Regions from separate parts of the Homo sapiens genome. Here region 2 is linked to region 1. Evidence: fine-mapped QTL for protein levels in blood plasma. A gene starts in region 1. The other region holds a variant in brackets. All regions are shown on one strand. Distances are between the middles of the regions. Region 1 holds the start of ADAMTS13 (ADAM metallopeptidase with thrombospondin type 1 motif 13). Region 2 overlaps ADAMTS13 (ADAM metallopeptidase with thrombospondin type 1 motif 13).

What was found. PIP is the posterior inclusion probability: the model's chance that the variant is causal. Protein levels are from the aptamer-based SomaScan assay of Sun 2018.
Region 2: its variant is fine-mapped to the plasma level of the ADAMTS13 protein (Sun 2018, PIP 0.95).

What each region holds. Positions count from the first base shown.
Region 1 is chr9:133,419,250-133,424,249 of GRCh38, reverse strand. It overlaps ADAMTS13 (ADAM metallopeptidase with thrombospondin type 1 motif 13), which reads right to left and starts at 1,883. Exons shown (of 29, transcript NM_139027.6): 1 at 1,702-1,883; 2 at 1,083-1,149. The coding sequence starts at 1,806. RefSeq lists enhancers at 2,129-2,188, 2,309-2,358, 2,589-2,728.
Region 2 is chr9:133,433,841-133,439,260 of GRCh38, reverse strand. ADAMTS13 (ADAM metallopeptidase with thrombospondin type 1 motif 13) reads right to left here. Exons shown (of 29, transcript NM_139027.6): 12 at 2,306-2,432; 13 at 1,364-1,512; 14 at 895-1,015. Among named protein-coding and RNA genes, the nearest start is that of ADAMTS13, 14 kb to the right of the region's middle. The variant G/A (reference allele first, on the strand shown) is at 4,661.

The DNA of each region.
Region 1 (5,000 bases):
GCTGGCAGGTCTTGGAAGGATGGCCTTCCGAAGTCAAGACATTGCGTGTCACCCCCACCCCAAGAGCCAGACCCCATTAGTGACTAGGCACGCAAAGGGCAGGGCCCAGGAGGAGCTGTTGGGCTATTGTGTGCTTTGGGTCACCCCATCAAGACAAGATTCCCACTGCCCTGGTGGCTCTGCCCAAAGGGGAAAGCCCCTGCCCTGCCTCCTGGACCCTGCTCTGGGCACAGGTGTTTCACAAGTAACATCATGGACCCCGACAGGAAACTGAACACGAGTGGAGCCCAGTGGTCTCTTGGGAAGCAGGGGCCCAGGCCAGCCCTCACTGTCCTCTCCCAAGGGAGCCCTTAGAGGGTCAGGGACCCTGGGCAATGATCTCCCAGCCTTTCAGGAGCGGCAGCGCTGGAAGGACCCAGGCTATGGGATACCCAGACAGCGTCGGCTGCATCCAGCCCCCAGCGTGGCCCCAGGCACTGGTCAGTGTGCCTCTGGCCTAGACCACAAAGAACCAGGTCACAAAGTGGGCCTTGCCCTCCTGTTGCCCCTGACCACTAGCCCACCTGCCTCTGGCCCCCATCAGCCATTAGTCAAGTTGCCAATGGCCCTACTGGGAAGGGGGCTCGCACCGGAGAAGGTCACAGACATGGGCCTGTGGGCAATGGGGACAGGCCTTTATCATAAGGAAATCCATGGCCTTAGGAGGTAGCCTGAGCCAGTACCTATCTTGTTTCCCACAGAAGGAATAAATATTTACATCCACGGTCAGAAACCACAAGAGCTCCTGAAAATCAGCCAGCTCAGCAGAGGCCATGGGGCAGGAGGGGCCAGCCAATCGGTGACCGTTCCCTTGTGATATTTAACAGAAGCTAGGGTGAGAACCCTGGCCTGGCTGGAACACCCAGACCAGCTTATATCAACTTGGCAGGAAGTAACAGAGTTAATTAACAGGGTTGACAGCAGCTTCTCTGACCTTCTCCTTCCAGATCCACCAAAAATCCCAGACCACTGACTCAGTGGTGAGATACCCCTTGAAAGTCCTGAGAAACTCCCCCCGGGAGAGAAGACACCAGGACAAGTACCTTTTAAGGGAGCACCAGGGCTCAAGTAAGAAGACACGGCCTGTGGCTCCAAAGCCTGAAGACAACTCTGCAAGACAAAAAGAGATGGATGGGGCCGGGCATAGTGGCTCTGGCCTGTAATCCTAACACTTGGGGAGACCGAGGTGGGAGGATCACTTGAGTCCAGGAGTTTGAGACCAGCTGGGGCAACATAACAAGACCCCATGTCTTAAAAAAAAAAAAAAAAAAAAAAAGAGAGAGAGAGAAAGAAAAAAGAACAAAAAGAGATGGATGAAGAGGGAGACAGGAGGCAGGAGGTGGGTGAGGCCAACCAAGAAGGAGAGGGGGAAATCAGAGACAGGGAGAGGAAGGGAGAGGCAGAGAAGAGCAACCTACACAGTTTGGGACAAACTAGTATCTGTCTGTTCAGCTTCACCGAATGAGCAGGTCGTACTGAGACACCAACTCCCTCTTCAGTGAGCACACTTCATCCCCCAAAGCCCCAAGTACAGACTCCCCTGCCCAGCGCAAACCCCAAAGCTGATGTAGTCAGCTATTTGGCACTCCCCTCGCCCCAGGTAGCTCAGAATACCCCACCCAGAGGCTCCCAGAATACCCCCGCTCCTGCAAATGAGCCCACCTGCTGGAAATGGGAGGGTCCCCAGCAGCCCAGGAGAAAGCCACAGGCAAGGATTCCGGCCACACAGAGGGGAGGGCATCTTGCCCGGGGGTGACGCTGGTGCATCCTCAGGAGAGCCAGCCCGAGGAGTGGAGCGGAGTGAGAGGGGGCCTTGGTGACTGGGAATCTGGTCAGTATGGAATGGGACAGGCCTGCTCACTACTGGGCGGGACGATTAGGCAGTGTTTACTCTTGGAAGCTTCCTGCCAGGGCAGGGGCCGTGGCTAGGGTGGGCGGCCTGCAGCTCCTCCTGCTGCAAGCTGGGCCTTGCTCTAAGATGGTTGCAGTTCAGGGTAACCTGCAGCCCAGTCCTGCACACCAGACAGCTCTCCGGATGTGCACGCCCACCCCCTTAGAGGAGGCCTAAGCCATCTAATCTGGAGAAGGGACACTGGACCAGAAACCCACAGACGGGGGTTCACAAGGAATGCCAGGACCTCGGCTGACTCCCTCTCCGGGGTCCCCGCTCCCATCTGACAGATGAGAGGCTGTGCCAAAGACATCGTGGTTCTGGCTCAACTCTCCACCTACTCTGTGCCTGCGCCTGATGAGGAGAGTCGCAGAAGCAGGCTGCACGGCACCAGATCTCAGCATCATCACAAACGGCCTGGCAATCCCCTTCATCTCCTGGAAGACTCACTTCACATGCTCCAAACCACTCTTTTACACCCACAGAGCCGCACAAGCTGATGACCAGCAGGGGGATTCACCTTGTCTTTCCACCCCTCAAAGTGCAGCCTCTCTCCTCCTCTGCGATCAGGGAGGACACACCTACACTTCCTGCCAGGCCCTGGCTCTGGATCCCTTCCCAGCTCTCTCCTCCTGCATCGTTAGTTTCTGCCCCTCTGCTAGAGCCATTCATTCATTCCTTCAGCCAACAAATGTTTCACTGAGCCCCTGAAACAGGCCAGGCTCTGTGCTAGACACCAGGAAAGCAGCCCCAAGCCAGGCAGACAGCAGCCTCGGCCTCTCACAGCTTAAATTCTAGGGAAGAGAGCCAGACAGCAAAGTTGCTAGACAGACACATGTTGTATATGTAGTATGTTCAAAGGTGGTAAGTGTTATGGAGAAAAATACAGCAGAATAAAGGAATGGGGGACTGGAGGGAAGGGTGTGCTTTCATGCAGGAAGGTAAGGAGGCTGTTGGAGAAGGGGGCATGCTTAGATATCGAGATCCTGGTACCTGGCTCACTCCATCAGCATGAATGACTCTCCTGTCTCTTTTTGGTTTTTGTTTGTTTTTTGAGACAGAGTCTTGCTGTGTCACCCAGGCTGGAGTGCAGTGGCACGATCTCGGCTCACTGCAACCTCCGCCACCCAGGTTCAAGTGATTCTCCTGCCTCAGCCTCCCTTGTGGCTGGGATTACAGGCACCCGCCATCACGCCTGGCTAGTTTTTGTATTTTTAGTAGAGGTGGGGTTTCGCCATGTTGGCCAAGCTGGTCTCAAACTCCTGACCTCAGGTGAGCTGACTGCCTCGGCCTCCCAAAGTGCTGGGATTACAGGCATGAGCCACCAAGCCCAGACACTCTGGTGTCTCTTGATTACAATCAACAACCTTCCCTTGACCCACACTGTCCTCCTGCCATAGCCCTGTTTCTGGCTGTCTTTAAGAACTTAGAAACATTATTTTCAGTGGCTATCTCCACTTCCTTGCCTTCAATTCCCACATACCATTGAAATTGATCTTTAAAAGGTCACCAATAACTTTGTGAACCCTGAAAGAGCCAATCCTTCTTGATGGATCCCAAGTTACTAACTGGGCCTAAATTCAAAGTAGGACCTAGCAGCCATTTGCTGACTAGGGTCACACACACATTCTGCGTTCCTGGAAAGCCCCCACTCTCACTTAACTCTGGGATGGTTTCACAGCTATCTGTTCCTGTTTATGCCGCCAGAATCAACCCATCGACTGTGACCTGCATCGACCAATCTGAACTCAGCAAGTATTAACCAATCAGAACTAAGCAAGTGTGCCTTCCTCATTTGCATAAGTGGACCAAAGTGGGAACCTGGGCAGGAAGTTCTCTACAAAAGACGACCTCTTTCTTTGTTCTCTTTGTTCCCTGGAATGCACCTTTGTACAGAAGGCTGCATTGCCCTGGTTTACAAACTGCTGGAACAAAGTTTTTTTCCTTTTTTAAAAAGAAAACCTGGGCCAGGTGTGGTGGCTCACGCCTTTAATCCCAGCACTTTGGGAGGCCGAGGCAGGTGGATCACGAGGCACGCGGATCATGAGGTCAGGAGTTCGAGATCAGCCTGGCCAGCATAGTGAAACCCCGTCTCTTTTCAAAAATACAAAAATTAGGCTAGGTGCGGTGGCTCACGCCTGTAATCCCAACACTTTGGGAGGCTGAGGCGAGAGGATCACCTGATGTCTGGAGATCCATACCAGCCTGGCCAACATGGAGAAACCCCATCTCTACTAAAAGTACAAAATTAGCCGGGCGTGGTGGCACATGCCTGTAATCCCAGCTACTCGGGAGGCTGAGGCAGAAGAATCACTTGAACCCGGGAGGTGGAGGTTGCGGTGAGCCGAGATTGCGCCATTGCACTCCAGCCTGGGCGACAAGAGCATAACTTCGTCTCAAAAAAAAAAAAAAAATTAGCTGGGCATGGTGGCGTGCACCTGTAGTTCCAGCTACCCAGGAGGCTGAGGCAGGAGAATCGCTTGAACCCGGGAGGTGGAGATTGTGGTGAGCCGATATCACGCCACTGCACTCCAGCCTGGGCAGCAGAGCAAGACTCCGTCTCAAAACAAACAAAAAAAAAGAAAACCCTTTTCGGTGGACTTGCTGACAATCTCAGTGCCATATCTGGTTCCCATCTCTCTGTCCTCGTCCTTCTCAGCCTCTCAGCAGCATCTGATGTGGTTTATTCTCCCCCTGGATTCTCTGATGCCACTCACATCCGCTTCTCCTCCCACTGCACTGACTGCTCCCCCTCAGCCTCCTCTGCTGCTTCGCCCCTGGAGAGCCCCCAGCACCTGCTATCTGGTCTTAACCCTTCACTCCCTATATTGGTACTCTCTCTTTGGATGAACTAACCCAGGTTCATGTTTCAACACTAATTATGTGCTGACGATTTCCAAATTACATCTCCAGCACTGACCCTTCCCTAAGCTTAGGAATCTTATATCCTGCTGCTGATTAGACGTCTCTCCTTGGTGACTGACGGCCCGTTCAAACTCAGCAAGTGTGAAAAGGAGCTCATGGCTCCACCCCCATACTTCACCCTGCTCCCCGCAGACATTTATTGAGA
Region 2 (5,420 bases), 15 kb before region 1:
GGCTGGCTCCAGCAGCAGTGAGTCCCCTGTCATGGGGGCAATTAAAAGCAGGCTGGAGGACCACCTGCCAAGGCTCTGCCCTGGCTGGGAGAAGGGACCGGGTCCAAGGTTCTCCAGCACAGTGGGGCAAGCCAGAGGGAGGCAGGGCTCAAGTCTCTGCTCTCCATAGAAGCACTGGCATTTGCAAATGGTTTTTGACCTCATATATACACCAAAGTCAAAGATTTTCCAAATGTAACTACCAACCCTCTCATTCACTTGTGTCCCTCTCAGTGGGATTTCTTGAGCAGGAGAGAAGAGGGTAGCTGCCACAGAATGCACAACGTCCATACTTTTTTTTTTTTTTTTTTGAGACAGTGTCTCACTCTGTTGCCCGGGCTGGAGTGCAGAGGGATCTCGGCTCACTGCAACCTCTGCCTCCTGGGTTCAAGCAATTCTCCTGCCTCAGCCTCCTGAGTAGCTAGGACTACAGGCGCCCGCCATCATGCCCAGCTAATTTTTGTATTTTTAGTAGAGATGGGGTTTCACCATACTGGCCAGGCTGTAGGTGATCTCCCGACTACAGGTGATCCACCCGCCTCAGCCTCCCAAAGTGCCGGGAGTACAGGCGTGAGCACAGCGCCCGGCCAATGTCTGTGTTTTTTTTGCAGCACGGCTACAGTGAGTGACCATTACTGAGGCACCACAGTCCCAGCAGCATCAAGGCCAAAACCTGAGCCTGCCACAGAAGGGTGGCGAAGTGGAAGAGGGAGACGCTGACACCACAGGAGGCATCCAGGGCTGAGTGAGTGTGCAGGCCCTGTGACCTGAGCAGCCCCTGCACCAACGCTCTGGGCTGTGGCCATCTTGGAGGCTGGGGGAAGCCCAGCCTCTGCCCCGAGGGAGGCCGCCTACCTCTCGCTCTGCCAGCTGTGAAAGAGCCCTTCCGTGGGCTGCACGTGCTGTTGTCCCCACCACACACCTGGCACCTGTCCCATACCTGCTGGGAGTCCATCCTACCATCACAGCCAAATGTCTATGCAAAGGGAAGGACAGAGGGCCCGTGTCACTGGAGGGTGCTGGCCTCAATGACTCTGCAGCCCTGCCAGCTCTGAGATTCTGGGATCCACAAAACCAGCAACACTTCTATAGCACCCCACCATCTACACAGGAAGCAAGCTTAGAGGGCTCAGTGACTTGCCCAAGGTCACACTGCAGCCCTTAACCCAGGCTGACTCCAAGTCCAGATCCTTTTCCCCAGCACCACTCCCCTGCAGAGGGCACTGCAGCTCCATCAGGGCCAGCACCCACCAACCTGCCCCCAGGAGCCTTCCGATAGGACAGGTAGGCCCCAGGGCCATCGCCAATGTCCACACACGCCTACCCTGCAGCTGCCCGACACACACAGGCTCAGGGTCCCGTCCTCCCGGGGGCCACTTGGCATACACCGGGTCCCATCGAGGAAGCTGTCTCCACGCTTCATGATGAAGCTCTCGCCAATGGCCCGGCACATGTGTCTGCACAGAGCATCCCCTGGGAGGGCAGAGTGAAAAAGGGTGTCCTGAACCGAGCAGGAGGGGCAAGTCCCCCAGCCCCCACCCAGCTTCATCCTTTGCATCTGGGGCAAGGGTTTCTATCTTCCCCACATCCCACCTCCTAAGGCAATAATCCTAATCACGATCCTAATCTAATCTAATAATTAATGGTATTGAATTAGGAACCAAGGCTGGGCGCAATGGTTCATGCCTGTAATCCCAGAACTTTGGGAAGCCGAGGCAGGCGGATCACCTGACGTCAGGAGTTTGAAACCAGCCTAGCCAACATGGCGAAACCCCATCTCTACTAAAAATACAAAAAAATTAGCCGGCATGGTAGTGCAAGCCTGTAGTCCCAGCTATTCGAGAGGCTGAGGGGCAAGAATCCCTTGAATCCCAGAGGCGGAGGTTACAGTGAGCTGAGATTACGCCCCTGCACTCCAGCCTGGGCGACAGAGCAAGACTCTGTCTCACAAAAAAAGTATCATGAACCAAGGAACACACTTGGCATTTTCCGATTATCTCCCTGAATCCTTGTAGCGCCCAGGGAGGGACCTACTGCTATTATCTCCATTTCACAGATGGGAAATTGAGACTCAGAGATGGGATGTCAGTGCCTGATCTACCAGCGAGGCCTGGCCACTATGTCATCCATGGTCTGTGGGATGCCAGAGCCTGAACCACTTTGCCCAGTGCTGGAGGGATAGTAGGCCAACCCCCCTATGACTCTGCCCTGTCCGAGGGTCTCCAGGGCTGGCTCCTCCCCCAACCCCACACTCCGCAGGCCCCACCTTGGCTGTGTGGTACAGCAGCACCCCAGTGGTAGAAGGAGGCGCCGCCAGGGGAGGAGCGCAGCGGCTGGCCGTCGGTCCTGGCGCACTGTTGCGACATGAACTCCAGCTGGGTCTTCTCGCAGGCCTGGCCAGGAGGAGGCAGAGGAGGGGGATGGCGGTGGGGCGGGGGGCGGGTGTTGTCACTGGGAGACTACATGGCACCCTACAGTACAGGATCAAGATGTGGGTGTGGCCTCAGCTCCAGGCCGTGCCTCGGTTCCCTGCTCTGTAAACTGGGGTGACAAAAGTGCCTGCCTCTCTCTATTGATGGGAAAACCCCGGGGAATCCGTAAAGAACACAGGGCAGCAACGAAGAAGAAAGCCAGGAAAGAGCATTACGCTCAGAGCCTCTGCTTCCAAGGCCTGAACTCAATAAAACAGGGACGGGGATGTGTATTCTTTAGGTAGTGCACCTAGAGGCAGGTAACCAAAGCATGGAGCAAAGACCTCACCACCGAAGCCTCTGCACTCAGGCAGGCGTCTTGGACTTTTATGGGCTGACAGAAGATAACCGGAGTTGACTCCCTGGACAGCCACACTGACCACACTGCCTCCACGAAATCCCACCACCCTGTGCTCCAGCCAAAGACCCTCCCCTCACGGTCTGGGGAGGTCTTGGTGGTCCATTTGGAGAAGGAGGAAAGGGAGGGTCTCACCACATGCAGAACTGTAATACAGCCAGGGACAAACCCACACCCAGGGCCATCGAAGCAGGAGATAGAATTTAACTCAATGTAAAAAGAATCTTTCTACCATTTCATACCACCGAGATGGCCAAAATCAAAAAACAGAAAACAGGCCGGGCGCCATGGCTCACGCGTGTAATCCCAGCACTTTGGGAGGCTAAGGTGGGCGGATCACCTGGGGTCGGAGTTCAAGACCAGCCTGGCCAACATGACAAAACCCCATCTCTATTAAAAAAAAAAAAAAAAAAAAGAAGAGAAAAGAAAAAACAACAACAGAAAACAGCAAGTGCTGCAGCGGATGTGGGGAAACTGGAACCCTGGCGCAATGCTGGTGGGAATGTGAAACAGTTCAGGCACTGTGGAAAACGGTTTGGCAGTTTCTTTAAAAGCCAAACATGCTGGGCGCGGTGGCTCACGCCTGTGATCTCAGCCCTTTGGGAGGCCGAGGCAGGCAGATCACGAGGTCAGGAGATCAAGACCATCCCGGCTAACATGGTGAAACCCCGCCTCTACTAAAAATACAAAAAAAAATTAGCCGGGCGTGGTGGCGGGCGTCTGTAGTCCCAGCTATTCGGGAAGCTGAGGCAGGAGAATGGGGTGAACCTGGGAGGCGGAGCTTAGAGTGAGCCGAGATCGCGCCACCGCACTCCAGCTTGGGCGACAGAGCGAGACTCCATCTCTAAAAAAAAAAAAATAAAGAAAGAAAGAAAAAAATAAGAAAAAAAAAAAGTCAAACATAGGCCGGGAGCGGTGGCTCATGCCTGTAATCCCAACAGTTTGGGAGGCCAAGGCGGGCAGATCACCTGAGGTCAGGAGATCCAGACCATCCTGGCTGACGTGGTGGAAACTCCATCTCTACTAAAAATACAAAAAATTAGCCAGGCATGGTGGCGCGTGCCTGTAATCCCAGCTACTCCGGAAGGTGAGGCAGGGGAATCGCTTGAACCCAGGAGGCGAAGGTTGCAGGGAGCTGAGATTGCACCACTGCACTCCAGCCTGGCGACAGAGCAAGACTCTGTCTCAAAAAAAAAAAAAAGAAAAAAAAAAGTCAAACATACAATTCCCATACGATCCAGTAACTCCGCTCTTCAGCATACTGCCAAAAGAATTGAAAACAGGGATTCAAACATGTACAAGCACATTCGCAGCGGCTCTGTTCACAGGAGCCAAAAGGTGAAAACACCTCAGATGTCCATCAGCAGACGACTGGATGAAAATGTGGTCTATCCCTGCAGTGGAATATGATTCAGCCAGAAAGAGGAATGAGGCGCTGACACAGGCTACAACACAGGTGAGCCTTGGGGACGTGCCGCTGGGGGAGGAAGGCAGGCAGGAAGCACACCTGTTGTCTGGCCTCAGGTACGTGGCATGTCTAGAACAGGTCAATCCACAGAGACAGAAGGGAAACCAATGGCCGCTGAGTGGCGGAGGAGAAATGGGGAGTGACAGCCTACCATATGGGGTTCACTCCAGAGTACTCCAGAGTACTGGAAACGTTCTGAAACTAGACAGAGGCAGTACTTGCCCAACCTTGTGAGTGTACTAAAGGCCACTGAGTTGCCACTTTAAAATGCTTGATTTCATGCTACATGAATGTCACCTCAATTTATAAATAAAAGACTCCTTC[G/A]GCCAGGCGCAGTGACACCTGTAATCCCAGCACTTTGGGAGGCCGAGGCAGGCGGATCACGAGGTCAGGAGATCAAGGCCATCCTGGCTAACACGGTGAAACCCCTCCTCTACTAAAAATACAAAAAATTAGCCGGGCGTGGTGGCGGGCACCTGTAGTCCCAGCTACTCAGGAGACTGAGGCAGGAGAATCGCTTGAACCTGGGAGGCAGAGGTTGCAGTGAGCTGAGATAGCACCACTGCACTCCAGTCTGGGTGACAGGGAGAGACTCTGTCTAAAAAAATAAAAATAATATTTAAAAAATTCCTTTGCAGGCATGCAGCAGCGCACTGTATTCCTAGTGGGGAGGTTCTCCCTGCAGAGATGCGCTCTGGAGGGCAAAGTGGCACTCAGGGAGGGAGGCGGGACGCTTCAGGGGCTCTGTGGGCATCAGCAGGACTGGCCTGGTTTATGAACTGGGGTCCCAATGTCCTTCTCTCTCTTTTTTAATTTTTATTTTTTTTTTGAGACAGAGTCTCACTCTGTCGCCCAGGCTGGAGTGCAATGGCCCAATCTCGGCTCACTGCAAGCTCTACCTCCTGGGTTCAAGTGATTCTCCTGCCTCAGCTTCCCGAGTAGCTGGGACTACAGGCGCCCACCACCACGCCCGGCTAATTTTTGTATTTTCTGTAGAGACGAGATTTCACCATGTTGGCCAGGCTGGTCTTGAACCCCTGACCTCAGGTGATCCACCTGCCTTGGCCTCCCAAAGTGCTGGGAT